Linked DNA regions of Homo sapiens: region 1 is linked to region 2. Evidence: fine-mapped expression QTL. Tissue or cell type: whole blood. Region 2 holds a variant in brackets; the other region holds the start of a gene. All regions are shown on one strand. Distances are between the middles of the regions.

Evidence for each region. PIP is the estimated chance that this variant, and not a neighbour inherited with it, causes the effect.
Region 1: it holds the start of NCOA4, and the variant in region 2 is fine-mapped to the expression of NCOA4 in whole blood (TOPMed, PIP above 0.99).

What each region holds. Positions count from the first base shown.
Region 1 is chr10:46,029,020-46,031,703 of GRCh38, forward strand. NCOA4 (nuclear receptor coactivator 4) reads right to left here and starts at 1,604. Exons shown (of 10, transcript NM_001145263.2): 1 at 1,507-1,604. It overlaps LOC105378287 (a long non-coding RNA gene), which reads left to right and starts at 1,756. Exons shown (of 3, transcript XR_945923.4): 1 at 1,756-1,848. RefSeq lists a silencer at 1,130-1,219 and an enhancer at 1,580-1,649.
Region 2 is chr10:46,090,218-46,092,901 of GRCh38, forward strand. No RefSeq gene overlaps it. Among named protein-coding and RNA genes, the nearest start is that of MSMB, 45 kb to the left of the region's middle. RefSeq lists a silencer at 1,322-1,616. The variant A/T (reference allele first, on the strand shown) is at 1,531.

The sequences.
Region 1 (2,684 bases), 61 kb before region 2:
CTATACTGATTTAATAAAAAAAAAAAAAAGGGGGGGGTGAGGGGTACTATGTAGTTCTAAAATATCTTCTCTCCCTTTGAGAAGGACATCTTCCTCCCCTTCCATAGCTCAACATGTTTTTCCATTTCCGAAATGCCTGTTTGCACAAAGGTAATAATGTAATTGTAGAGATTTATTTAGATAAAAACTACCACAAAACTTTCAAAGAGTAGGATTTTCCTTAGAGACCCAAGGACAAAGGCTCCCTGGAAGGCAGGAAAGGAGAAAATGAAAGGAACGTTATTGTGCTGGACTTTACATACATAATCTCATTTACTTATCTGAACAAATCTGCAAGCTAGCAAATCTTCAAATGAGAAAACCAAGTAAATTGCCTAAGCCACTGCATCCTTAGGGTAAGTCTTTCTCAAACGGTCTCAAGTACTTTAAAGTTTGGAAATGTCACACTAGGATCTCGGTATAAAAATGGGCCAACTATGACTTCCTGTGCCATCCTCATTCCAATAAGTAACTCAAGAGTCTCTATAAACTTAGTTCCAAATTACCAAGTGCGTGGTGGAAAGCTAAGTCCATCCAAAAGGCAATTACTGTGGTGAACCCGACCCTGATTAGAAAGTGACACAAAAAGGCACAGTTAAAAGTAAAAAAGCTCTGCCTTTGGGGTCAGATAAATTCAGCACTCTGACTTCTGTCATTCTACTTCTGCCATTCTTGATGGCATCATTCCATGTTAAATCCCGTGCCACGTAAGATTATGATTATTGTTTTCCCCACAACAAGAATTTAGTTCCATGAGAATTAGGTGTCCATTTTTTTCATTGCTATCCTCAACATCCTGAACATACAGGCACCAAATAAATGATTGCTGGTGGAATGAACCAATGAATGAGCAAGCCTTACTCTTCTCAGCTGTAAAACAGAGATAATCAAGCTACTTTTCGGGATTATTGGGAGAATTAAATGTGACAGTATGTGTTTGGCACACAGAGGGCCAAAAAAACCCAATATCTTCTTTGCATTTCCACCTGACAAGCTAGAAATGGATTATGTTCTGTGCCCGTCCGGCAAAACAGACCTCGCCTCGCCCCACATCCAAGCAAGAGGCGAGAGAAACAGGAAACTTGGAGCTGTCACACCTAAAGAGAGGGGAAGGCCGGCGGGGAGCAGGAGGTGTCCGAGCCGGGTGTGAGGAGGGTCGGGGAGGAAAGGACAGGCCCACGGCCGGGCACGAGGAGGGTCGGGGAGGAAAAGACAAGCCCGGGCCCGGCGTGTGGCGGGAAGGCGAGAACGTAGGCCCGGGCCCGGCGTGTGGCCGGAAGGGGAGAAGACAGGCCCGGGCCCGGCGGGCAGGCAGGAAGAGGTGCCCGGGCCTGGCGTGTGGAGGGGAGGGAAGGGAAGGAGAAGGCAGACCGGTCCCGGTGTCGGTCGGGTCGGGAAGGGGCGGACAAGCCCGGGCCCAGCGGGCCAGCGGTCATCGAGCCTCCACCCGGCCCACAGCGTTCTTACCAGGTCCGAGTGCCTCTCCAGGCGATCCGAGGAGACCTTGGGTGGACTGAGACACGGCCCCACACTAACCTACGGCCCAAAGGCAGAGTTCTCGCGACAACACAATCTTCCTCCCACACCTCTCGCCATACGTCTGACAGTCTCGCGAGATCTCCGCTCGGGTCAGCCAGAAGCCCTTGACTGCCCTCTAGGAGGCGCAGAGCGCAGGCGCACACTCCCTCCCCGCCCTTGCAGTGTCCTTTAGTCCTTCGTGAATAAATCGAAATTAAATGAAGCAAATGCTTTTTTGAAGGCAAATTTGGTGCCAAGGACCATCCTAAGTGATTCAGATGGCCTCACAAGGTAGATATTATTTAGTTTGAACATTCAGATGCAAAAATGAATATCGTAAGACACAAAAGGCCATATGTTGTATGATTCCACCTTTGCCACATTTGTTTTTCTAAGGATTGAGTTAATAGGCCGGGAGCAGTGGCTCACGCCTGTAATCCCAGCACGTTGGGGGCCGAGGCGGGCGAATCACGAGGTCGGAAGATGGAGAGCATCCTGGCTAACACGGTGAAACTCCTTCTCTACTAAAAATACAAAAAAATTAGCCAGGCGTGGTGGCTCGCGCGTATAGCCTCAGCTATTCGGGAGGCTGAGGCAGAACTGCCTGAACCTGGGAGGCAGAGGTTGCAGTGAGCCGAGATCGCTCCACTGCACTCCAGCCCGGGCGACAGAGCAAGACTCCGTCTCAAAAAAAAAAAAAAAAAAAATTGAGTAAATAAATAAATGGCAGAACCCAGATTCTTTTTTTCTTTTCTTTTTTCTTTGAGACAGGGTCTGACTCTGTCGCTCAGGCGCAGTGGCGCAATCTCGGCTTGCTGTAACCTCTGCCTCCTGTGTTCAAGCGATTCTCCTGCCTCAACCTGCTGAGTAGCTGGGATTACAGACATGCGCCATGATGCCCGGTTTTTAAATTTTTTTGTAGAGACAGGGTCTTGCTGTGTTACCCAGACTGGTCTCAAAGTCCTGGGCACAAGCGATCCTCCCACCTGATCTAGGATTACAAGCATGAGCCACCACGTCCAGCCTACAGCCCAGATTATAACCCACATTATTTACTTGTGACTAGATGTTAAATAGCACTTCTTTCTGTCTCAGTTTTGACAGAGGTCCTCCATACTCAGTTGCCA
Region 2 (2,684 bases):
AGAGGTTAGGAGTTCGAGACCAGCTTTGTCAACTTAGTGAAACCTCGTCTCTACTGAAAATACAAAAAAATTAGCTGGGTGGGCATGGTGGCAGGCACCTATAATTTCAGCTACCTGGGAGGCTGAGGTGGGAGAATTGCTTGAACCTGGGAGGCAGAGGATGCAGTGAGCCGAGATCATGCCACTGGACTTTAGACAGGGTGACAGAATGAGACTCTGTTTCAAAAAAAAAAAGCGGTAGCAGGAAAGGCCAGCTTGGTATCCTGTGCTGAGCAACCAGACCTGGCCCCACTCAGGGCAAGCATCGGGTGCTCTCCCACCACTAAGGCCAACAGCAGCTGCTTCCAAGTCTGATGCTATCAGGCAACACTCTCAACATCTTCCTCGCTCAGGTGTCCAAAGGGCCCTGGCCAGCCGGACACTGGGCTCAGTGTGCCCGGGAGGGAGCAACTGGGCCTGTGGCCTGCACCCCTTGGTCAGCCCAACTCGGCCACCCTGAGCAGGACTGAGGGCTGCCCCAAAGCTTCATAATCGGGGTGGTTGCAAATTACATTCTAGGCTGTGTTAGGACTACGTATTGCAAACATTTTTTTTTCCCTTTTTTGCAAGGTGGATGGATGAAAAGAGAGAGAGAGAGAGAGATAAAGGAGCATGGGCAAACATTCACTGTAAAATCCCAGTGGTGGATATAGGTGTGTTTGTGTTCATTGCACAATCCTTTCCACTCACCTATAGGTTTGAAAATTTCAACAATAAAGGATGGAAGAAAACCAAATAACTAAAGAAGAAAATTATGCTTAGACATAGACAATCAGAAGTCATGATACATCCTGGGTGACAAGTGACTGATGAGAGGGACAGACCAAGCCCTTGGGCTGCAGGGAGTCAGAGGGGCTGGTCATCAGGGAAGGCTTCCAGGATGAGGTGCCCTATGAACAGGGCTGTGAAGGACAGGTGGGCTCGGCCCTTCAAGGTGAGGCAGGGCTTGCAGGGTGCCTACGCCCCACCTGGTCCCACCTCTGCACAGGGCGCCCAGAACAGGAAGTGGCTCCTGGAGGGCCTGGGGGTTCTGCTAAGAGCCTCAGACACCTGCCAGGCTTAGAAGGGAGGCTCCTGCCAAAACCCTCCAGCCATGTGTGGGGGATGGGCTCAGGACTGGCCTGGAGCAGTGAGCCCAGCAGAGGCCTCTGCCAGGCTGCATATGAGGCCTAGGACTGAATGGGGGAGTCTGGGCTGCGTGCCTCCCTCCCTGGCCTCCTTCCTGGGCTCCCTGGAGCCCTCCTGGTTTCTTGGTGGCAGCCTGCTGAGAGGGCTTATTCTGTTGCATTTAGGTTCCAGGTTCCTGCCTTGGCCTTTCCCTGCTGTGACTGTCACCCTCCATGTGGGGCAGCTTTGCCCAAGTCAGCCAACAGCTGACAGGTCAGGGCTGTGACTGCCGGGCCACGTGAGCAGAGGCAGAGGGCTGAGCTGGTGGGCAGAGGGCACCTGTCACCTCAACTCAGCTGCCACCAGGGAAGAGTGACGACTCAC[A/T]TCCTCACCTGGGGTTGACAGGACTGCTCAGACGCCACAGCCTGTGCATGTCCAGGGGACATCGTCAGAGGAGCACAGCTAGCACACTGGCTGCACGACTGAGCAGCTTTAAACCAGGAGCAGCAGAAAGAGACCCCAAGTGGGAGGGGAGCTCTCTCTACTCCACCCCCATCCTCAGCTCTGCATCGGGGAGAGGTGAGTGGGGTCAGAGCCCAGGACCAATCATGGAAGTGTCAGCACAGCTCCTGTTTCTGGGACCTACCAGCTCCCAGCCCTGTGCCAGTCCCTGCACAGCTCAGTGCCCTGGGACTCACGACAGGCCTGACAGCATCCTTTCTGTTCATGGGAGGCACCTCTGGAGCTCGCTGACATTGGACAATTTGCTCCTGGTCGTGTGCCCATGGAGAGCAGAGCTGACATGGACGGTGTGTCTGTCCTCACAGCCTACTGCCAGGGCACCCTGCAGTGAGGAACTGGGAGGCCAGAACCCAGCTGCTGCTCTGGGCCAGCAGCACCCAGTCTCGTGCTGTCCCCATGGAGGGAGGACACCCAGGGCTCTCTTCCTCTCCAGCAGCCGCATTTGCATAAATGCCGGCCATGCGGAGTCCCAGTGCGCACAGGTGGAGATCAGGACAGACAGGGGTCATCACAGAGGACCACACAAGGCTGTCACCACCCATGCTGGGTACCCAGATGGCATGAGGTCACCCTTAATTCCAGACAGTAGGGACAGATGCTGGGATTGATCTTGTGGGACTGAGGTGAGCCGAGGGTGTTTGTGTGGACACCTTTGTCGGGCTATGGAGGTTTCCTTCTGCTCCCAGGGTGCTGTGGCATGTTGACGCCCCCACTTCTTGTTCTTCATCCTCTGAGATAACCGCTTGGTTCCTGTTTCCCGTTTTGTTGATGTGGTAAATTTCACAGCTATTTCACCTTCTGCACCTGCCTGGCCTTCCTGGGAGGAGCCCTGGCTGCTCCTGCCCTGTGGTCTGGGTTAGCTGCTGCTCCATGCCATTTGCTAGTGTTTTCCTGTGAGCTTCTCACACATGTCTTTTCTTGCTTTAGGGTTAAACTTATTGTTGTGAGGTAACAACACACTAATTGTACACAAGTACTCACACTGCCACCTCTGCATACTCCCCCCACACCAATAG